Regions from separate parts of the Homo sapiens genome. Here all the other regions are linked to region 3. The links come from fine-mapping of genetic effects on gene expression. A gene starts in region 3. Each other region holds a variant in brackets. All regions are shown on one strand. Distances are between the middles of the regions. Region 1 has its middle 4.9 kb from the start of FAM241A. Region 2 overlaps AP1AR (adaptor related protein complex 1 associated regulatory protein). Region 3 holds the start of AP1AR (adaptor related protein complex 1 associated regulatory protein).

Region 1 (8,188 bases), 91 kb after region 3:
TGTATAAGAGATTAGTGTGTGTGGGTTTGTATGTGAGAGAGAAACACACACATGCACCCAGTTACACTCTCCAGCAGAGTACCCCTGTTCTTGCCTGAGTATCTGCCCGTCCTTTTCAAGGAAGACACATTTCACTGTCCCTCTTGTTCCTTTAGCCTCCTTTCCTAGTGTCTCACTGAAGGTCTGTGTATTTGTCCCTTTCTGTTGAGTGCTTCCTAGTGTGTGTTGTTTGTTGGAGCCTTGGGTCGTTTGATGGTGTATCAAATGATGTATCTTTCTGTAACTGGGTAAGAATATGTCTTTCTCAGTGGGTGGTGAGGGGAATATATCCAATTGATAATTATTTTTTGTACTACTCCATCCATTTTATTCAAGGAAAATGGAAGGGTGTTTAAATAAAATATCACTTTTTTTTCTGTGTATGCCTTATCTGTACATTGGGAAAACGATGGGTTATTGTACAGGTAAAATACAGAAAAGTAAATATGGAAAGTAAACATGTGTACACATGGAGAAGAGTAAGAGTTATTTGGGATCTTCTATTAAAATGTTTTCAGGCCCAGAGAAGGAATTAAAATAGGCAGAATCTCATAGGCTTATTTTAAAGAAGTTTCCTGTTTTTTGTAGTCAGGAGATTCTCAGTCTTTCTCACACACCCACAATCTCTCATACACACAATCTCTCTCATACACACATGATTTCACATACATACAGTCTCTCTCACACATATACAACCTCGCGCACACACCATCTCTCACACATGGTTTCTCACACATGCCCTCTCTGATTGTCTCTCCTCCACAAACAATCTCTCTAGGGGCCAGAAAATATGCCGTTGGATATCAAAAATTAGAAAGAAAATGAATCTGGTTCATTCCCTTTCTTAAAAGTCTTTAAAACTCCAGAAAAGAGTATTTAATATTATATACATACAATCAGAAACAAATATCACCATGGGAACCCAGTAGCCTTTCTGATGGGCCTCATTTTTTTTCCCCTGAAGGCAACATTTTCATTCTTGGAATTTTGGTTTGGCTATTAGTAGTGTTTCTTATAAAAACCAACTTTTTTTTTTTTTGGCTGGGCGTGGTGGCTCACGCCTGTAATCCCAGCACTTTGGGAGGCCGAGGCAGGCGAATCACAAGGTCAAGAGATGGAGACCATCCTGGCCAACATGGTGAAACCCCATCTCTACTACAAATACAAAAACTAGCTGGGTGTGGTGGCACATGCCTGTAGTCCCAGCTACTAGGGAGGCTGAGGCAGGAGAATCAGTTGAACCCGGGAGGCAGAGGTTGCAGTGAGCCAAGATCACGCCACTACACTCCAGCCTGGTGACAGAGCAAGACTCCGTCTCAAAAAAATAAAAAAATAAAAATCAACTTTTTTGGATAAAACTTTGGAATTATATACAGCAACCCAGAGAACATCAGCTCTTTACTGCCAACCCCATGAACTAAGGCACATTTTGAAGTTCTCCCTCATAGCGTTTGATTGGCAACTTGATAAGCCAAACAACTATGCACTCTTCAATCAGGCTACAGTGAGCAGAAATTCCTTATATATAAGAGGACTCAGAAGGCACAGAGTATTTATATAGCTGGGCAGGTACAATACAGAGGTTAGCTTTGTTCAGCTTAGGGGACAAGTCTTACAAAATTCCTTTAGAGTATACTGTCTGGTCTTTTGTAGATTCCGGCTTCTTGAGTCTTTGAGAAGTGTATTAATTCAGTTTTTTAGTAGGTATTTATTGAACGCTACTAGGCTTTAGGCCCAGGTCTAGGTCCCTATTCTCTTATTGAACACTACTAGGCGTTTGGCCCAGGTCTAGGTCCCTATTCTCATGAAGCTTCATTTTAATCCAATTCTTGTGTTATTTTCTTGGCAGAAACCAAGAACTTTTACCGAAGAGTAGCCAGAATCCTTGGATCTCCACCTAGGACTGAAGGCAGAACCTTTTTTTTTTTTCTTAATATCATTTACCTTTAATTTAGTGAGTGAGTTTTTCTTTAAGCTGTTATTCTTTTGTTCATAGAGTCTGATTTTTCCTGGAGATCTGGAGAACCACCTCTTTAAATAAATCTAGCATTTTACACAAAAGACATTAAACAGATTACAGCCTAATCTTATGGGAGGAGAGGGCTGTTTTCACTCTGCTGCACAATGTGAAAAATATACACATAAAGCTAGCACTGCCAGTTTCCCATGGGAAATATAAGATTGTTATTACCTAGGCAACTATAACATGTTGGTCTCAAATCATATGTAGTGGTTTTTTTTTTTGTTTGTGTGTGTGTGTGTGTGTGTGTGTGTTTTGGCAGAGTGTCGCTCTTCCACCCAGGCTGCAGTGCAGTAGCATGATCACAGCTTACTGCAACCTCCACCTCCCAGGCTCAGGCGATCCTCCTGCCCTGCCTCAGCTCTCTAAGTAGCTGGGACTGCAGGTGTGTGCCACCATGCCAGGCTAATTTTTGTATCTTTGTAAAGATGGGATTTTGCCATGTTAGCCAGGCTGGTCTCGAACTCCTGCGCTCAGGTGATCCGCCTACCTTGGCCTCCCAAAGTCAAATCATATGGAGTTTTGTTGTGATTTTATTAGTGTGTTTTGTGCTTTCCCAGAAATAAATAAGTGCAAGAAACAGATGCACGTCTAAGGAATGGCCTGTCTAGTGCAAATGTGGCTGGTGCAGTTGCTATGGGAACAAGGACTTTTAATCCTTCACTTTCATGCCTTTATTATTTTTAATGTTCCTCTATTCTTATTTCATTTGTGCATCTTTCCAGAGGGAGAAACGAGCAAATCAGAGAGTTCTGGACTCAATTGGTAATACAATCTTAGAAAAACAAATGCAGTTATTTGTGGAAACTACCCCAAATTACATTTGTTGGTTTGATTTTTGACACACTATAATGTTATTCTAAGCTTCCTATATGCTTTAATTTTTCTCATATGATTTTCATCTGCTTCCTTTCTATTTAGCAGGGCACAGGGAATTATTTTTGAGATGTTTGGAATCTGAACCAAAATTCCAGGAAACTATGGTTCTTGCACAATTGATGTAAATTTCAAGGAAAGGAAACTTGGAGAGGCCTCACTTCCTTTAGTGTTCTTTCAGTTTAAGGAAGCTGTATCAGCTTAAACAACGCTCTATTAATGCTCTCTTGCCTTCCCAGAGAGTCCATTCTGATTGGGAGAAGGAGAAATTTGCTCTTTCTGTTGGAATTAATTTTTGTTTTATTTTTTGAGACAGAGTCTTGCTCTGCCACTCAGGCTGGAGTGCAGTAGTGTAATCTCGGATCACTGCAAACTCCACCTCCTGGGTTCAACCGATTCTCCTGCCTCAGACCCCCGAGTAGCTGGGATTACAGGCGTGTGCCACCACACCAGCTAATTTTTGTGTTTTTAGTAGAGACGGGGTTTCACCATGCTGGCCACGCTGGTCTCAAACTCCTGACCTCAGGTGATCCGCCCGCCTCAGCCTCCCAAAGTGCTGGGATTACAGGTGTGAGCCACTATGCCTGGGTTGGAATTAATTTTTATCCTCTCTGCTCTATTAACGTTCTCTAGTGTGATTTTGTTGCATTCAGATGCACTGCTGAGTTCTCTCCTTACAGTAGGAAGATAGATTAACAGTTGTTTTATTAAAAAAAAAAAGTATTGAGAAGGCTATTTAAACTTATTGCTAGAGAAAAAAGTGGAAATATAGACAATAATTAAGCACTATTTAATATCTGTTAGTAATTTTTAAAATGTCGAATAAAACCTAATGTGAGCAATATTTTAGAGAAATGGTTAAACTCAGGCATTGCTAGTAGCTCTGAAAACTGATAGCATTCTTTTGGCAGTACATACTCAGAACCACAGAGATATCCGTACCCTTTGGCCTACTAACTCCAGTCCTGGGAAAGAATTAAAAAAGGGGTGGGGTGGGGGACAGAGAGATGTTGTCCCAAGGGTACAAAGTTTCAGTTAGACAGGAAGAGTAACTTTTTGAGATCTATTGCACAGCATAGTGACCATAGTTAATAATAATGCATATTTCAAAACTGCTAAAAGGGTAGATTTTAAATGTTCTTACCATAAAAAAAAGATATGTGAGCTGATGGGTAACTTTATTATCTAGATATAATCTTTCCACAATGTACACATATATCGAAACATCACATTGAACCTTGTAAATGTGTACAATTATTATTTAAAATAAAAGTAAAAATTAAAAAACAAAAAGGGGAAAA[A/G]GTTGTTTGCATAAAGATGTTCAAGGCAGAATTATAGTGAAAAGCTGAAAGTAGCCTAAATGTCTTCCTGTAAGAAAACACCTAAGTAAACTGTGGTATACCAACACAAATATGTAAAGCCTTAAAATGGTAAAGATTTTATATCAATGTGATAAACATTTAAATATAATGTTAAGTGAAAAAGTGAAGATTGGTAGTAACAGAGTCACTCAGTTATCCTGTACCCCAGGAGCTAGGCAGGTAAAAAGAGTAATTCAGGACTTAGCTTCTCAGCTTAGGAAATAAGTCTCACAGAGGTGAAATTATGTGAACAAAAAGATCAAATTTGGAAGATAAAATTTTAAAATGGCTTTTTGGACAATGTGACTCTGGGGTATGTGTTTCCTTGTAAAATTAATTTTAATGTTGTAATTTAAAAATAAACCATTTAAAAAGATCTATATCTGTTTTTCTTGTAAAATGGGATTGCTGGCACCCAAAGTCTGGTTGATTCAACTTCATAGATGAAAGTTATATTACCTTTTGTTGAATTATTTAGTTCTTGAATGAGTTTGGATCTTTTATTCATGTTGTTCTCAATAATTTAGAATCTTAGAGTTGGAAGGAATCTCAGAGGCAGTTTATAGCAAGCTATCACCCAATGTAGGATCCCTTCTATAACATTTCTGGTAGATGGTCACCCTTCTTCTGCTTGAAGGCCTCCAACTATGGGAAACTCATTACTTCATGATACTGCCTATTCAATTACCAAATAACTAATACTAATTGTTAGAAAGTTTATTGCATCTCCTGACTTGAATCTATATCCTTATCTCCTCTGCCTCTTGGTCCTAATTCATTTCTGAAGTACAAAAGAACGAATTAATTATTATTATTATTATTTTTGGTGACAGTCCTTTCAATTTTTTATTTTTTTATTTTTTATTTTTTAGAGACAGAGTCTAGTTGTGTTGCTCAGGCTAGAGTGCAGTGGTACCATCTCGGCTCACTGCAACCTCCGCCTCCCTAGTTCAAGCGATTCTCCTGCCTCAGCCTCCCGAGTAGCTGAGACTACAGGCGCCCACCACCACGCCCAGCTAATTTTTGTATTTTTAGTCGAGATGGGGTTTCACTGTGTTGGCCAGGCTGGTATTGAACTCCTGACCTCGTGATCCGCCTGCCTCAGCCTCCCAAAGTGCTGGGATTACAGGCGTGAGCCACCATGCCTGGCCTCAAACTTTTTTTAAAAGTGATTTTGTCTTCTCTTATACTTTATTCTTTTTACTGTTATTTATGGATAAATGTTGGGTTTTGCTATTGTTATCTGTACCTACTTTTTTCTTTTAGGCAAAGCACATTTATTATTCACAGATGAGCAGTAAGGTGTACCTACTCCTTTGTTAACAATACCCCAGCTTTTCTTATTGACCAGTCTCCCACTCCCAGTCTGTGATTGGAATGGAGAATATGGCTTTTACTAAGTAAATTAAATTCATTTTACTCTCCCCACCTCCCATGGCCACTGTGATTGGTTCAAGAATAGGCACAAGTCAGGCCAATCAGGGCCAATAAAACTCAATTTGGGGACTTTTGTTTGTATTATAAGAAAAGTATTGTCTACAGGATTGGCCTGTGATGGTATGAGCTTGGAACTGCAGGAGGACAACCATATAGGGCATAAGAATGAAGTCAGCCCAGCAGAATACATGATTGAGAGATGAATATTTTTAGCTAGCTACTCCAAATATTAGAGCTACACCTGTATGCTTTTCTCAGTTATGTTAACCCATAAATCTATCACCATAATGTTGTCCCCAATTTTTTTCCATAAGCCATGTTGAGTTAGCTCTTCATCACTTACTAAAGGAATCAGAATGATATAAACTCTAAACTGGGATACAGGAGAAATGGCTAGTTCTGCCACTCTCAGGCTGCAGAAATTTGTGCAGTTTATTTAAAATTTCTGCTATTGAATTTCATAGTGAGTAAAATGAGCAGGCTGAACCAGACAATTTGAAAAATCTCTCTCTCCTTTAAAATTCTATGATTTCAGCCTGGGGCGGTGGCTCACGCCTGTAATCTCAGCACTTTGGGAGGCCGAGGCGGGCAGATCATGAGGTCAGGAGATCGAGACCATCCTGGCTAGCACAGTGAAACCCTGTCTCTACTAAAAATGCAAAAAAATTAGCCGGGCGTGGTGATGCACGCCTGTAGTCCCAGCTACTCGGGAGGCTGAGGCAGGAGAATGGCGTGAACCCGGGAGGCGGAGCTTGCAGTGAGCGGAGATCGCACCGTGGCACTCCAGGCTGGGCGACAGAGCAAGACTCCATCTCAAAAAAAAAAAAAAAAAAAAAGAAAGAAAAGAAAAAAAAATCTATGATTTCTATCTGACTTTTCTTCTAGATCTAACCTGAGTGCCTTGGCTGCTGTTCTTTTCATTTATTCCAATTAGTCAAGTTGTTCTGATTGGAGATACTAATTCTCAAAAGTGAAAGGATAGAAGGAATTTTTCTTATGCTGTGTCTTAATCATCATAATTAAATTATCTAAGGTTATTTTTGCCAACACCTCCCCAAAGATCTTTAAAATGTTTTGATATACATATAAGTTGTCCTATTATAATTCCAAGGTATCTATTATTTTAACACTCTGCAATGAGAAAAACCCTCTTTACTCAGTGAAAATTAGGTCTATTACATTTTTGCCTCCACATTTTTATTCTGAAAAAATTCACACCTTAAGAAAGGTTGCAATAGTACAGTGAACATTCACAGGGTGTTCACCTGGAATGTCCAGTTGTTAATATTTTTTCTAAATTTGCTGTCCTGTATGTGTTTTCCTGGCTAAGCCTATTACTCTCACTGAGTTGTTTTTAAGTTGAAATAGGGTCTCACTCTGTCACTCAGGCTGGAGTGCAGCAGTGCAATCTCAGCTCACTGCAACCTCTGCCTCCCAGGCTCAAGCAATTCTCATGCCTCAGCTTCTTGAGTACTTGGGACTACAGGCAGGTGCCACCATGCCCAGCTAATTGTTTGTACTTTCGATGGAGATGGAGTCTCACTATGTCGTCCAGGCTGGTCTCCAACTCTTGAGCTCAAGCTATCTGCCTGCCTTAGCCTCCCAAAGTGCTGAAATTTTAGGCGTGAGCCCCCACACCTGACCTTCAATGAGTTTTTAAAAATGGTATATATGAAGAGAATCAAGAAATTCTGGAAGGAATGCTGCACTTCTCCAGGATCTGGAGAAGTAAGGTGGAACACTCTAGCAGTTAACAATTCTAAAACTTGAGCCTTGACTGCCGCTAGATTCCAATCCTGGCTCTTTCTAATCCTCAGTTTTTTTATTTGCAAAATAACGGGTATTATGGCATCTAAGTTTATACTCAAAACATATTAGTTAGCATTAATATTACGTGAATGGAGCTGATAGCATGAGGTATGCTTAGCTTTTTCATTGCATATGGGAAATCTGTTATCTATGCTCTGCAAATGAGCTTGGATCTTGGGTTTCCTCACATGGTAAATAACTTAGTGGTTGACTTAAAAGGGAATGCAAAAAGCTGAAACAGAAATTAAAGAATTCTGTATGTATCTCCAGCTGGGCAAGAAATCAGACCCCAAATAGTATCTGCCAATACGGTACTAGCAGATGTAAGCCTAGATACGGAGAGGCAGATGGGTTTCATCTCACGTTCCAGTTACTGGTAGCAACTGCGTGGCACACTGTATTTTCACAAGAAGGCTTGTGAAAATTTACTGGGAAAGAATGACTGCTATGGAATAGGAGATATGAGTGATGGCACAGTGTCATGTTGCTGTGGCCTGAATGTGTCCTCTAAAATTCGTGAAACTTTTGGCCAATGTGACAGTGTTAAGAGGTAGGGCCTTTAGGAAGTGATTAAGTCATGAGGGCAGAGCTCTTGTGGATGAGATTAGGCTCTTATAAAAGGGCTTGAGGGAGTGGATTTCTTCTC
Region 2 (8,188 bases), 33 kb before region 3:
ATCATCCATTTCGGCACTAACAAAATCATTTTCCCACTCCAGCCCATTGGAATCATCAGAGGCTGATGTAGGATTACTTCCAGTCTTCTTGTTGCTATACTTAAGTGCTGCCCGTAGAATGTCTTCCTCTGTTTTGGAACGTTCTCTCATTGGAAGCATTCTATTCATTCCTATGATTTGAACAGAGTTTTCAAAAATCTCAGAACAGATAATAAAGCTATATTTAAAAACTCCCAAATTTAGCAATGTAGTTTTTATTTAACTATCAGACTTGATGTGTGAATTAACTTAAAGACCCAGTCCCATGGAGGCCTTCTTAAGGGAAATTGTTGGGTTCTAACCCTGAAGTATGCCTCAGATAAAAATAAATATTAACAGTCACCAAAGGGCAGTTTTGATGCATCGATTATCCGATAAGATGAAATTCCTGAAGACTCATAAATAAAACAGAATGGATGGAGGATTTCAACTGCTGTTAGTCTCATATAGCCAAGTTAGTATGTCTGCCAAAGTCTTTTCCTACCCACATAATTTCATTTCCCAGAGAATGACAATCACTCTAATGATAACATGTACTTTTCCAGCATTTACTAGGTTCCAGTTAATGTGACATATATGCCACAGATATGAACTGATTTAATCCCCAACAACTCTATGGAGTACAGTACTATCATTATTCTCATTCTATAGCTGAGGTAACCGGGACAGAAAGGCTAAGTGATTTGGGTAAGGTCACACAGCTAAAAAGTGGTGAAGCAAGAATTTTAATCCATTCAGTCTGGCTCCAAAGTCTGTGGTATTATGCTCTTCTGACTCTACCACAACAGAGTAGAGACATTTCTATGGGAAACTGTTCTAGATCTAATTCTGAACAAAATGAAATTGGTAAAGTGAAAGTGTCAATAATCTTGAAAGGAAAAAATAATGTCATTTTACTGGCAGAAGGAAGGGAGACAGGACAGAAAAGAAATTTGAATCTGTAAGTACAGAATCAACATTGGTAACAGAATTAAAATCTAGGATTCACAAAGAGATTGTAATATTCCCAGACACATTTAATGATTTTCTTTTTTGACCTTAAAGCTCAGATCCCACCATAAAAGAACATTTAAATCTGTATCACCGTTGTCTGTCACTCCTGAAAAATCACAAAGACTCAACCCAGTAAAACAAGTTATTTCTATAGATAAGAAAAAAATATGAGCTAGATACTAATATAACTTTGTAGATCTGTATCTGGTGGATTTGTTTCTGTGGATTTATTTCTAAGAGAAGTTATATTTAACTTCTGGCTTTGGACTGTCCACAAGGGGGTAGTAATCCTTCATACTGAGTAATGTCATGGGCTTGGATTACAAAAACCTTAAAGAAATCGACATTTATTTTCTAAATCTAAAGAAACATTAAAAATTAAGCAATTTTCTAAAAATTTTTATCAACAGAGATCATCACCAATACAATAATGGTCTAAAAAGTGTTTATATGATTTTTCAAGGCCTTGAATTTATTTCCATTTAAATAAAGACCAAGGTAGATTTACATAAATCAACACAGATTACGTTAAATTTTTCAGGTAAAATTGTGAATTATAAAATACCTTCTTCATCTTCCCACTCTAGATCTAAGGATGTGCTGTCGTCATTTCCACTAGTTGATTTAGTTTTGGTCATTAAATCACAACTGCTTTCTGTATTTGGTGTCAAAACTGTAGCATCTGATGAGAGTCCTAGAATATACACGAAATACAATTGAATACTCTCATCTACTCTTCCACCGCAACAGCCGTTTTATTTTGTAACAATTATCTGTCTCTAAATATTATTATTATTACTTTTAGCTTCATAAGAAATAATTCTGGAAATCATTTTATTGGTAAGTTTCTGTTAGGAACAGTATAAAGAAACTTTTCTCTCTTTTTTTTTGCCATCTAAGCATAGCAAACATGCAAATATAAATGATTATAAACTTTTCAAATATGATTAACTCTAGATAATATTTTTAACAGTCAATTACAAAGCGGCACAAAAAACAATGAACAAGAAAGATAAAACAAAAAGCAACCTATATTTTCAAAAGGAACCACTACCATACTATGCTTCCAGTATTGGGAAGCATAAGAGTTTTTGCTTTTGAAACCTGAGGAAATATTTTAATCTTATAAGTCAATCTGTAATAAGTAAAAAATAAGTACACTTTTCTATTACTTCCTCCCACCTTTCCTTTCTTTTTTTTGGAAAGGGAAGGGTTAGGATCAGAGTAGAAATGGAAAAAGGAGTGCTTGACTTCCTATATGGATCTACAGAAATAGTCTGAGATTTTTCTTTGCTCCAACTTCTTTTTAAAAAGAAAAGATGAGGTTGTATAATTAATGACTACCTAGGAAATTGACCTATCTGGGAATTACAAATTTAAGAACAGAAAGTTCTTCTACAGAAACAGAGCCAGAATCTCTACTTATCTGTTTACTGTGGCATAAAAAGTACAGAAAATACTTTAAAAAACTTACTACTACTTCGAAAAACTTCATACTGTGACTTCATATTTCTCAAACAAGATTCGAAGTCATCTTCTGGTCCTGAACTGTAATAAAAGTGAAATAATTTTTTAATATATTCATGGTAGCTGCAATATGACAAATATATAAGCTAATGATGGCATTGTGGCTTGAAGACCTATGTCATACAAATTCATAACTGCTGTACAATTAGAATAACCTAATGAAAATAGTTCTTAATTTTCTTAATACTAAAATGAAACTGAAAATAAGAAGATTTTCATTAATCCTGAAGTCCAATCTCCAAAGCTTAGCCATAAGTCCAACTTTACAATAATGAATCATGAACAATATTCTTTGAATGAGTAGTGATACTTGTGGAAATGTGACACTGAAATATCTCTTCCAAAAAATGACCACACATAAACTTTATTATAAGAAAGAGAGGGACTAAGGAAAACACAAACAACTGGGGTATAAACAACTCACCCAAAGGCATTCAGCTATTGTATCACATCTATATGGGAAATGAGACCACTCTTAAAAATGCAATAAAGTCAGTTTAAATTAATAATAATGTTTCAACTTAAATGTTCTCAGTTTTCTTCCAAGACAATGTCTTTTAGAAGGAATAATTTTTAGGGAACACATAAACATGAATGCGTATATACACATCTTGAGGTGAATGATGCTCTACACCGCAATAAAATGTTCTACCACAAAGGGAAGGAGGCATATGTTTCACTATTTACCTTTGATATTCTCCATTGTTGGAAG[G/A]ATGATATTGCTGCACAATTCTCTGCCTTTCTTGCTTTGGAAACATAATGTAATAAAAAAAATCACTCTGTTGTAAAATTATATATTTTAAAACCACTCATGCAACACCAAAAAGTATTTTTTTCTAGTTTCTAAAAAAAAAAGTTATTTTGTTGATATATTTTTCCTTAAATCCATCACTATTCAATTCTATATCCCCTTATTTATGGGAAGAATTTTTCTGAATTTATCTATGTGTAATCCAGAAGTGGCCAGAATATTCATAGTGTTATTAAAAAATAACTTTTTTTTAACAGATATGTATTGATATCCTTAACATTCTTAGTATACCCAAGAACTTCCAACCAACTGGAAAAATGAGGAGCAGGAAAGGAATAGTTAAAACAATACATGAAGTTCCATTCTGGGTGAAATAAGTAGCAATACAACAACAGATTTATAAGATCTGGCTGAGTTGACTCAGAAATAATAAAAGCAATTGGCTAAGATTTAGAAGAACTGTTGGGAGTTGTGGCTCTGATAGCTATTAGCTATATATCCCTGGCATGGCCTTTACCTACTGTTCCTTCACCTATAAATTACAGATAGCTATATTACTGCTCTAGCAAACTCAGGGTTCCCATGAAAATCAAATGACTTGGTGGGTGTCAGTGTATGTCTGTGTGTCAGTATGTGCTGTATAGACTGTAATGTGTTCCTACATCAAATATTTAAACCAGGGTAGGAAAAACTCAGAGAATCCTGGAAATCACCCATATGGATGCTGCATATGGAATGCTTTGTCTTTAAAAGGGAAGCAGTAGATAATCTATTACAGTAAAAAGTGTCTATATGATAACCAGAAAAATACTTTTCTTAGTAGAAGGTAAAAGTTAAAAACTTGTTCATTATTTAGAACTGACTTAAAAAGAAAATATATTCCTTCATATAATCTGCTAAAACAGCAGAGAGAGAGAGGGAAAAAAATGAAGGAAAGTTGGGGGGAGAAGGACACAGTTCACATAGAAATCATGTAACAATATGATAGACATGATATTTCAGTTTCTCTAAGTTTTACAATGTGACATGATCTTTATACTACTTCAGTTAACACTACAGAGGTGAATCCAAACAGGCAAAATATGGAGGAAGATATTAAGGATACCAGCTAAGCACTGTTGTGCTTGAACTTTGGCTCTGGCCCTTATTAACTGTAGGATCTCAAGCAAGTTACAAAACATATCCTACTCTCAGTTTTCTCATTTGTAAAACAGGGATTAAAAACACTATCTCATAAGATTGTTGTGAGGATTAAATAAGGTAAAACATTGCTGCTCCTGACAGTTAGGGTTCCATAAATGCCTGTTACTTACAGCTGCCAGGCATTATGGTAATGCAGCATGGTAAGATACGGTAAATCTGCTGCCTTCTCTGATAATATTCCAACGATTTCTCAAGACCCAAACTCCCAATCTCCCAAGGACACAAGAATAAAGATGAGAAGCAAGTAATAATTTTATGGGGAAAATAGCACAGTTTATCCAGTTCCAGGAAAAAAAGAAATTCTAGCAATTTAAAAAACTGTTAAAAAAAAAAAAACCCTCACAAAACAAAATGCTTTGCCAATTATATTTAAAGGCTAGTTTTGCAACGCTTTCCCTCTAAGAGTACATTTAATTTTTCCAAAAGAATACTGAATTTTATAGCACTAAAATTTATCTTTAGGATAAACAGGAATCAGCATTTGCTAATCTAAAGCTAAATAGCATTGAGTATCAAGCATGTAATCTGATGTTATTTCTAGCTGTTAATGACTGACTAATTTGCCTTGAAAATTCTTAAGAATATATGGGTAAACACATTCGTTGTTAAACAAGAAGTCCTTGAGAATAGGAAAAAAAGAGTCCCAACTAAGATTTGTCAGAGAAAATAAGGAGAAAAGCAACCCTAATATATGCTGGGGTCTTTTCCCCTCACCTCCAAGAGCTTTCGCTGCTTTGCTGCCCTGGCTGCTTCACGCTGTGCAGCGTATAAAGCTTCTTCTTCTAGTCTTAACTTCTCTTCTTGTAAGGCTAACTGTACATGAACAAAACGATAAGGATTAACAAAAATCAGAACCTGTCTAACTGCTCTAAAAATAAAATGCTTCTATTTATAAAACAAAAAATAAATTATTAAAAAATAATTGATCTCTACAAAGCATAACAGAATTGAAATGTTTGCAATTGTTTAAATTTTTTCTTTTACAAAATAACCCAAAGGATATAAAACACATTACGGAATTCCTTAGAAACTGAGTTATGAAGCAGTAGCATCTATTCTGTATAAATATAGAAGTGTTTCTTTAGAATCTGCAGTGATCTTCATTTTAAACAATCATTCCAACACCTATCACCCTCACTAGTTTGCCGGTTTTGGCCCTCATAAATCCAGTATCTTTAAGATCAATTACGTCACTGTGACCAAAGTGAACTCAGCTTTCACAAAATTCATGTCTTGCCATCTAATTAACATCAATGCACATGTCTCCTTAATTTCATTACTATCAAACTATTAAAAAATTACTTTCAAATGTAAGTTCTTGCTATTCATAAGAGCACATAAGCTGCTTTAGTAATATCTATTGTATGTTAAAGTTAACTTGAAAATCAAATTTCAACACAAATTTTTTTCTTTAGACTAATATTAACAGCTACTGTATAGCTTACGTTAATGCTTTTGAAATCACTAATTGGTCCTAAACATACTTTTCTTTTTGAGACAGGGTGTTATTCTGTCACCCAGCCTGCAGTACCATGGCACCAACACTGCAGCCTTGACCTCCTGGGCTCAAACCATTCTCCCACCTCAGCCTCCAGAGTAGCTGGGACTACAGGCGTGCGCCACCACCCCGGGTGAATTTTTGTATTTCTTGCAGAGATGAGGTCTTGCCAAGTTGCCCAGGCTGGTTCTTAACTCCTGGACTTGAGCAATCTGCCTGTCTTGGCCTCCAAAGTGCTGGGACTATAGGCATTAGCCACCATACCCACATTAAACAGACAAATATATGTATATGTATGTATGTATATGTGTGTGTGCATTTATTTTTTTTTTTTGAGACAGGGTCTTGCTCTGTCACCCAGGCTGGAGTCTAGTGGCTCCCCTTCGACCTCCCATAGTCTTGAGGATCCTGGGCTCAAAATCTTCCCACCTCAGCCTCCTTAGTAGCTGGGACTATAGGTGCATGCTACCATACCCGGCTAATTTTTGTATTTTTTTTTAGAGATGGGTTTTCACCATGTTGCCCAGGCTGGTCTCAAATTCCTGGGCTTAAGTGATCTGTCCACCTCAGTCTCCCAAAGTGCTGGAACTACAGGTCTCCCAAAGTGCTGGAACTATGACCACCAAGCCCGGTCTTAAACAGAAAAATTTTAAATGTGCAGCAGAATATGAATAATTCCATTTAGTTTAGTGGGTGCAAAACCATAATTATAGGCCATTTCAATAAACACATTAAATAACTTTAACACTTATGATTATAAGTACTTGGTTCTCTGAGAACAAATACACCAAGATAAAAACTCTTCAAAAAACCACTTATTGTGAAACAGGGTAATTTTTTAAAAATTTGCTTTTGTTGTTGTTTCCTTTTTGAGACAGGGTCTCACTCTACTGCCCAGGCTGGAGTGCAGTGGCATGATCTTGGCTCACTGCAGCCTTGACCTCTCTGGCTCAAGCAATACTCCCACCTCAGCCTCCCAAATAGCTGGGACCACAGGCATGCACCACCATACCAAGCTAATTTTGTATTTTTTGTAGAGACGGGGTTTTGCCATGTTGCTGAGGCTGGTCTCAACCTCTTGGGCTCAAGCAATCTGTCTGCCTCGGCCACCCAATGTGCTGGGATTACAGATGTGAGCCTGCTCTAAAAGTTGGTTTTAAATACCAAGGTGCATATTCTTGCCAGAGTTCCTACTTTGTGAATTAAGAAATTATTTTTAAAAGAATGTACTATCTCCATTTTTTGGCAGCATATGATTTCTGATAAATTAAGCCAAACTAAAAGAAATTATAATAGGCTGGAATGATTTTTTTTAACTCTTAAAACAGATTCATCTGTATATATCTAAATATAGGTCCAAAGACTCTACACAATATATTATTTAATGACAATTCTCTCTTTATGATAACATGTACTTAAGCAATATAAAAGACAATTTACCTCTTTTTGAATTTTCTTATCAAGATCTTTTTGTTTTTCGGCAATGGAATCATAATGCCTTTCTCTTAGGTCAACAATTTCTTCCTCAGTAAGAGGCCTAGAGAAAAAAAGGAGGAGGAGAAAAAGAAAAAACAAAAACTTCTGATGAGTCTAAGTCCAAATAAAACACTCAAAAAGCCAGTGAAATTCTCAAATTTTGCTGTTAAAAATGTTAAAGCAATTTGCTACAACTTCAATTGTTAAGAGTAAAAAGTATACATTCTAACACTTGCTATTATTCTAGTATATAAACTGGTAAGATGATACAATATCAGAATAGTTTTTAAAGCATTACAGCTACCTTTTAAGAAATGTGGATTTTATTTACCTTCATCTGGCTCTGCTTCAGCCATCTGACCTATGGGTATATACCCCAAACCATATCCCAAGATGCTCATCATAAAATATAAACATCAGTACACTATTACACCCTGATCTCAGCCGTCATACCATTCTGGAACTCTTCTTAATCCTCCTATTTTATCCTGCTTAATCACTCTGGCTTCCCCAGGCCCTTCATCCTTCCCTTTTCTCAGTCTATCTGTCCCAGTCATCTTCTGGCCTTGCTTCACTTACAACCAATATGGACACCAAGGCAGATCTGAACTACTTTCTTACCAACATACTCACCTTCTTACACTCCTATCATTATTCCATATTCACTTGGTTTACTCACATTCTGACCCTGGGTCATTTCC
Region 3 (8,188 bases):
AGGCAAAACTCCAGTGAAGAAGTATGACTCATTAGGATGCCTAAGTTTTATTCCTTAAAGATATTTAATTCTCTCTGCTTTAATCACCAAATGACTTCATTAGTAGTAGGGTTTCCAACATACGTCAACACTGATATTGATATTTTGACTGGTGAAACAGATATCCTAGAATATACAATACTAGAATTCCCTAGTATTTTATAAACTGGAAAAAGTGGTAATTCTGGTTTTGAGATTAAAATAGTAAAAAACGAGTGATCTGATTTTCAGATTTCTCAGGGGTATGTCAATCTGCAAGACTCAGAAACCAGGCCTTAGATCATAAGGCTTCCCTGTGAAGTCTAGCTTAAATCAAGCTAAAAAAGTTGAGGACACCCTCTTCTTTTGTGGTCACTACAAAGACATATAGGATCAAATCAAGTTTTTGTGATTACTCCTCAACTTTTTCACCTTTAGAAGAACTACTAACTATCCAGACCTATACTTGAAAGAAAATCAAAACAGCTGATAAAAAAAAAAAAAAACTAAAATAAGAGTTTAACCTTATTGCACAAGTAACTATATCCATCTGTCTCTACATGCTTACTGGAAGCTGCTAAAACAGTATTAAAATTGATGTTAAACAATAAGTTAATCAGAAAATTCAAGTAAGGGAACCGTCAAATCCTGTTTATAGACTTAAAGTAATAGGATCAATATCACCATTATATAATTTTAGATGACAGTGTCCACAACCTATAAACTCTCACTGCCTCCACAGGACTTGTTCAAAGAGCTTTGCCCACAAACAGTAAAAATCCAACCACAAGTTGAGTATACCTAACCCCAAAACCCAAAATCTGAAATGTTCCAAAATCTGAAACTTTTTGAGTGCCAACATGTTACTCAAAGAAAATGTTCATTGGAGAATTCTGGATTTCAGATTTTCAGATACTACACCAGTATATAATGCATATATTCCAAAATCTGAATAAAAATCTGAACTCCAAAGCAAGTATTTCAGATAAGAAATACTCAACCTGCTGGCCGGGCGCGGTGGCTCATGCCTGTAATCCCAGCACTTTGGGAGGCCAAGGCTGGCGAATCATGAGGTCAGGAGATCAAGACCATTCTGGCTAACAGGGTGAAACCCGGTCTCTACTAAAAATACAAAAAAATTAGCCGGGCATGGTGGCGGGCGCCTGCAGTCCCAGCTACTCAGGAGGCTGAGGCAGGAGAATGGCGTGAACCCGGGAGGCGAAGGTTGCAGTGAGCCGAGATCGCGCGCCACTGCACTCCAGCCTGGGCGACAGAGCGAGACTCCGTCTCAAAAAAAAAGAAAGAAATACTCCACCTGCTTATGTTTTTATGGCATATCTACAGACAATTAACACTCACGCTGATTCATGGATTTCCTCCTGCCACCTCCCTGTGCTGCCAAGCTCACGAGCTGAGGGAGTAGAACCTACAATTTTAATGCCGTACTCTACGGAGACCCCATGAAAAAAACAAAACTAAAGTCCACAGACACATCATGTAGTCCAAAGTCAAATATAAAGTTTTTTGCTTATCCATTTAGAATGTAAGTACTGCTCCCTCACCAACCAACTTTCTTGGAGTTAGAATTTAACGCCCTGTAACACAACTACAAATAATAGTAAAAGCCAAAGATTGTGTGGCATCTAGTTATTGGGCAAGCCTACTTAAGCAGCTTGACCTTGTAAGTTTCATTCACACACAAAAATTATAAATACTTAAACCAGATGATCCTGGATGACAAGATAAAACAACTGTCATGTCCCACTCAAGAGTAATAACTCATAAATTAGGGAAATCGAAATATTACACTAGGCACAAACTGCAAATCCTTGCCCTTCCATTCTAGGGATACTTAGTGTAAAACCTTAGCTATTTTGTATCAGAGAGGTGACACAATGCCTAATTAATGAATGAGAATCCTATATTTTATAAGATCTCCATTACCAAAGATTCAAATTATGATCATTTACTGCAATTTATTTATGTTGAACATCTTATTACCCAATAATGTTAGTTAAATGGAACAGATTATGAAAAATTAGCAATCTGTTTCAGAAAGTGCAAAACAGTCTTAGTCCTTACACAAACTGGCTTGGTTCAGATTTTCAATTCTAGGTTTGAATTCCGGAGGGACATTTAATAACAACAAAGCCAACCCCAAAGGAATTTGCTCTAATTTTTTCAATATATATGAAATAAAAAAACACAAAAACGGAATTATGAAATTACTATTCTGTGGATGGTGCATATACAAAACCTAAGCAATATCCCAGGTTTACTCAAGAGAAGTGAAGTTCAGAAGGACTGCAATTTACCTAATGTTACAGGACGTTTGAGTAGCAATCAGGGCAAGGAATTCCTCTCGAAATTTCAAAAACTTAATACGAAAAAATTACACATTGTCCCTGTAGTTATGAGCACCAAGAATCTGAATGCCCATTGGGAACTCTGCAATTCAGCAAGTCTTTGTAGCTACCAGAGTTCATCAGTATCTGGAACCTTATTTTACTCCAGCATCCAAATGACTTCTACTTAAAATCAATCTGAGGCATTAACTCCGGAGCCAGATCCCACCTGCTCTGCCAGGGCTAAAGAGAGGGTCAGATACAGGGATACTAGCTTTGGCGTTAAACCTAAGCTCAGCGCAGGGTGTGTCCAGGTTGCCGTGGAGCCGGTCCTACAGCCCATTAGCGCGAAGCTACCCCTTGTTTCCTGGAGATGATGTCTCCCGTGACTCCTTCCCCGCGTGACAGGGCGCCCTGGCAGGAGGGACACCCCGCCCCCTCTTCTACCTCTTTCCGAGGAGGCCCCAAGACCGGACCCCAGACTGGGCCTCCAAGACGACCACCAGTCTGACGTCTGCTAAGCAGTGAGTGTAGCAGGGCTCTCGACCGCCACCTCCAGCCGCCGGGGGACGGTGAAAGGGATTCCCCGCCGGGGGCCGAAGAGGAGGAGCCACGGGGGCCGGGCCCCTCCCCCAGCGGGCTTACCCTCCGCCGCCGCCTACTCGCTGCAGCCGCCCCGCTTCCTTGCGAAGCAGTCCGAAGCACTGCGTCCAGCAGCAGTTCCCCATCGCATGCCGCCCAGGCGCCGCCGCTCCTCCTCCTCCTCCCGCTCAATGCCCAAACCCAGGCCCGGCAGCTGCATCCGCACGGCACGAGCCGAAATGGGGTTCAAGGACCGAGGGCGGGCCGGCCAGAGCCCGGCGGCGTGAGGGCACGGGGCGACGAAAGACGAGGCGCTAGGGAACAAAGGCAGTGTTTACTCCAGCGGCCGCAGAGCCACCGCTGCGCGAGGGAGGAGCACCGGGCTCAAGGCTCTGGACTCCCTCGCCGTCCGCATGGCCCTTCTCGCCTCAGCTCCTAGCCCAGCGTGAGTGACCGCCTCCAGCTGCCGAAGGAGGCCAGTCCCCGCGAGCCGAGCACCCTGGCCCCGCCCCCAGCGCGCCCAGGCCCCTGCTCGCCGCCAACGCTGCCACACCCCCGGCCTCTCCCGCGCCCCAATTGGGCGCGCTACCTCGGTGCCCCGCCTTCTCTGGCGACCGGCCTGTGCGTCACTTCCGCTCGCTCCTGGTTCAGCCGCCTCTGCCTGCGAGACGGTTCAATTCCTGCGTGCGGACGTTTGTTTTGTTGGACCTTGACCTGACTAGGAAATTTCCCTCTCTCATTGCAGTTTCGGGCATCCTCGTCCGGAGCACGCTGGGCGTGGCATGGCTAAGGCTCAGCCTTCGAACTTTGTATCAAAGGCGTGTGAGGAGCCAGAGTCCCAGGCCGGAAGTCATAAGTGCGAAGGGGCGTTTCTCTGCACGGTGTGCTTAGTTTTTGTTAATACTGCACCATAAGCGGAAAATAGACTCGGGAACTGATTGAGGTTACTTTGAACGCACCAAGATTTTTTTCCGGTCTCTGGTTTGTGTCTTAATTTCCATACTGTTAATGTTTTAGGGAAACGTAATAATGGTGCATTATTGTCCTCGTTTTGTTTGAAAATCAGATCTTCACATAATTTTGGGTTGGGTAGTTGGGGTTCAGAGGAAATTGGCAAGAGGGCTGGGGTTTTTCGGGGACGTCAGCGTTGCCATTCCAAGCATGCTGCCCAGAACTGCTGTAGATGGGAAGAGAAAGCTGCTCTAATGTGTCCGCAGCCCTCTCAAGTGCTACCATATAATTCGCGTCTTGTTTGGCCTCAAGACAGTTGGCCTCACAATAGATATAAGATGTGGTTTAGTAGACACCTCGTCCAGTGGATAGGAGGATGCTCTCATGGACTGGACACATCAAGTTTTTAGCCTGTTTAATTAAACCTAGAAAAATTGTTACATTTTAGAAAGTTTTTATTGATGATAAAATGTTCTCTGAACTCATTTTCTTGCTTCTTTAAATACGTATCTGGTTTCAATCTTAGCACTGCTACTTACTAATGTTTATTTTATTTGGGTTTTAGTTGTTTTGTAATCAGAAGCATAGGATAACATTTGTCCCAATGGTTTGCTTTCAGTGAATGTTGGGATGACCGAATGACTTCCTAGTGAAAGCATTTTCTTTTCTCCTTCCAACCCCTGAAATTAGACAAATGTATTAATGAAATAATCATTAAAATTCAACTATAAATGTTTACAGAAACTGGTACATCTATCCTATGGAATATTTAGTAACAAATAGGAACACAGTATTGATGAACACACCCTGAAATGAATCTGTAGGAAATTATGGTTAAAGAAAAAGCCAATCTCAAATGCTTATATACTGTGTAATTCCATTATGTAACATCTCAGAATTGATAAATTTATGTAAGTGGACAACAGAATAATTGATTGCCATGGGTCAGGGAATGGAAATCCTGCATCTTGTCTATATTAATGTCAGTATTCTGGTTGTGATATTGCAATAGTTTTGTAACATGTCACCACTGGGGGAAACTAGATTAAAGATATACACGGTCATCTGTATATTATTTCTTAAAACTGCATGTGACACAATTGTCTCAATATAAAAAGTTTGATTAAAAAAATGCAGCTATAGACTTGACAGCACTTCCTATAGACATTCTATAAACCGTTATTAAAACTGAATCTCACTTAAAAATAATTTTTTTATAGTAAATCTGTTCTCTCAGTTAAGGATATGAATGATCCTCAGAAGCAATACAAATGAATAAGACATTTAAAAACTTCACTAAGCAAAATAATGCAAATTAAAATGCATGTTTTAGTCATTTGTATTGATTCACTTGTCAAGTTAACAAAGCTTTACAGTTAGAAATATTCAGTATTTGCAAGGATACAATGAAATGGTACTATTCTAAACTGCTGCAGATAATGAAACTCATTCTGAGAAATTATTTGGAAATACCAAGAGCCAGAAACAAACTAAATGCTCAAAAATTGAAGGATGATTAAATTTGCTGGTGTATTCTTGTTATATAGACATAATAAATATATTTTTTAAAACAATATGGAAAAATGCTTGCTGAATAATGTGTGAAAAATCAGGATAGAAAATTATATGTATGTTCCAAATGATGTTTAAAACAAAACATATACATTCTTACATTCTTTCTTACACGTGTTTCTTGAAAATAAAGGCTGGATGGTAAATATCAAAATGCTAACAGTAATTATTTCAAGACTGTGAATGTTGGGAGCTTTATTTCTCTTCTCTATTTTCTCAATTTTGACAATTATTATTTAATACTTCTGTAATCAGAAAAAAATGTTTAAATCTGACCCTTCAGTAGAAAAGGTTGATAACCAGTTCAATTAGAGTTTGATCACAAATGCAAGCATTTAGAAATGCAGAATTTTGCCCCGCAGTTCAGCTAAAACCAGGTTCTTGTCACATGACAAGGAAAACTTAGACACGTGGACACATTGAAGGGTGAGTAGAGCAGGATTTTATTGGGCAAAAGGAAAAAGAAAAAACTCACCAAAGCGAGATAGAGTCCTGTTATCAGGCCCCCACCTCATAGACTGAATCCCAGGCTACTGCACAGGGACTGAAAAGGCACCTCACAGATTGAATCCCAAGCCACCACATAGGAACTGAAGAGGCCAGCCTCCTTCCCCTGCCCTGGTTCCACCCCATTCCCCCAGTGCGCATATGGGCATGTTCACACAAGGCACTGGGCAGGTTCCCTCATCTGCACAAAAGCATCTGATGTGAACACTTGTGGGGCAGGTGGGAGATTTTTCTGGGGACCCCTTTTTGTCTGCCTAGGCATTTGGCTGTCTCCGAAAGTAATGATAACTTGAATATGGGTAGATTATAATAAATTCAGGGGAGCTACTTAATTTTTTTTCTACAAATGTATTAAATAAATTACCAAGCTAATCTTAGAGGTTATTGGAATTTATCATTGTGCAATTTTTCACCAAATTTGACATCAAGAATCTTCATGGTAAGTTTTAAGACTTTTTAAACATTCAGTTAAGTGATGATCTGCTTTTAGTTAAACAGAATTAGCAGGGAAAAAACCCGTAACTGGAATGGATGTTTGAGAGGCAGATAAACTTCATTTTATGGTTGAGAAAGAGTAGTCTTTGAGGAATTAAATGATTTGCTCAAGGTCATACAATGAATTAAAAGTATAATATGAAGAAATCTCAGGCCTCCTGACAGACTTGTGCCTTCTGCCATGCTTCAGTACTGCTTCCTCGACTCTTACATTTGGACATGGGTATAAAATCAGTAACGACCATAGTCACATGTATTCTGATAAGATTTATAAGTTTAATTCATCATTGCTAGAGAGTTCATTTAGAGCTGGGTGTGGTGGCACGTAACTGTAGTCCCAGCTACTCAGAAGGTGGAGGTAGGAGGATGGTTTGAGCCCAGGAGTTTGCGTTCAGCCTGGGGAACATAGCAAGACCTCATCATTTCAAAAAGTTCATTTATATGACAGTTGGCTACGCAGAATATTTAACTTGTCAGTAAGATACACAAACACTTAGATTATCTACAGTGGGACCAAGCACAGTGGCTTACGCCTGTAATCCCAGAATTTTCGGAGGCTGAGGTGGGCAGATGGCTTGAGTCCAGGAGTTCGAGACCAGCCTTGGCAACATGGCAAGAGCCTGTCTCTACAAAAAATAGGTGTGGCGGCATGTGCCTGTATTCTCAGCTACTCAGGAGGCTGAGGTGGGAGAATTGCTTGAGCTCAGAAAGTCAAGGCTGCAATGAGCCGAGATCTAACCACTGCCCTCCAGCCTGGGTGACAAGCCAGACCTTGTCTCAAAAAAGAAAGACTATCTACAGTGATTACTGTCAGCTTGCTAGAGACATCCCACCTGCTTACAGGTAGCAGAACTTCTCACCTTCTTCCCCATCCTTTTCAAAATTCTCTTGGGTACTAGGCTTAATACCTGGGTGACGAAATAATCTGCACAACAAATCCCTGTGATATGAGTTTATCCATATAACGAACCTGCACATGTATTCCTGAACCTAAAATACAAGTTAAAAAAAACCCCGGCCGGGCGCGGTGGCTCACGCCTGTAATCCCAGCACTTTGGGAGGCCGAGGCGGGTGGATCACGAGGTCAGGAGATCGAGACCATCCTGGCTAACAAGGTGAAACCCCGTCTCTACTAAAAATACAAAAAATTAGCCGGGCGCGGTGGCAGGCGCCTGTAGTCCCAGCTACTTGGGAGGCTGAGGCAGGAGAATGGCGTGAACCCGGGAAGCAGAGCTTGCAGTGAGCCGAGATTGCGCCACTGCGGTCCGCAGTCCGGCCTGGGCGACAGAGCGAGACTCCGTCTCAAAAAAAAAAAAAAAAAAAAAAAAAAAAACCCACAACATTTTCTTCTCTCAAGTATTTTATTCTGAAGTTGAAGGGAATGATCTTTTCTCGTAGGTGCTCCGAAGTCCGTCAGGATGCAACGTGTACCCCTAATTGTCTTCTGGATTATGTGGTTCCATATCTGAATCTCTGCTCAGAACTTCTTCTCTATTGACTGCTAATCACTTTTTGTCATTTTGAGATCATTTGCTACTATTATGTTTGGTGTGGAGGTTATGTGTGGTGTGGAGGTTATGTGGTCCCTGCAAAGGGAAGAATTCTGTGTTTTCCATTACGACATTGTTCCAAATATGGACACAAAGTCGTACTTTTAACTCACTGAGCGTAGTTTCGATTACCAAAATTTATACAGAGTACTAGATATGACTACTATA

The links. PIP is the estimated chance that this variant, and not a neighbour inherited with it, causes the effect.
Region 1: its variant is fine-mapped to the expression of AP1AR in whole blood (INTERVAL, PIP 0.95).
Region 2: its variant is fine-mapped to the expression of AP1AR in whole blood (TOPMed, PIP above 0.99).

The regions. Positions count from the first base shown.
Region 1 is chr4:112,136,447-112,144,634 of GRCh38, reverse strand. No RefSeq gene overlaps it. Among named protein-coding and RNA genes, the nearest start is that of FAM241A, 4.9 kb to the left of the region's middle. The variant A/G (reference allele first, on the strand shown) is at 4,237.
Region 2 is chr4:112,260,126-112,268,313 of GRCh38, reverse strand. It overlaps AP1AR (adaptor related protein complex 1 associated regulatory protein), which reads right to left. Exons shown (of 10, transcript NM_018569.6): 5 at 7,452-7,548; 6 at 5,228-5,326; 7 at 3,247-3,305; 8 at 2,507-2,580; 9 at 1,598-1,726; 10 at 1-170. Among named protein-coding and RNA genes, the nearest start is that of TIFA, 22 kb to the left of the region's middle. The variant G/A (reference allele first, on the strand shown) is at 3,272.
Region 3 is chr4:112,226,995-112,235,182 of GRCh38, reverse strand. AP1AR (adaptor related protein complex 1 associated regulatory protein) reads right to left here and starts at 3,396. Exons shown (of 10, transcript NM_018569.6): 1 at 3,009-3,396. The coding sequence starts at 3,091. It overlaps AP1AR-DT (AP1AR divergent transcript), which reads left to right and starts at 3,033. Exons shown (of 1, transcript NR_186684.1): 1 at 3,033-5,622. RefSeq lists silencers at 19-68, 2,862-3,131, 3,292-3,571 and enhancers at 2,602-2,651, 2,676-3,623.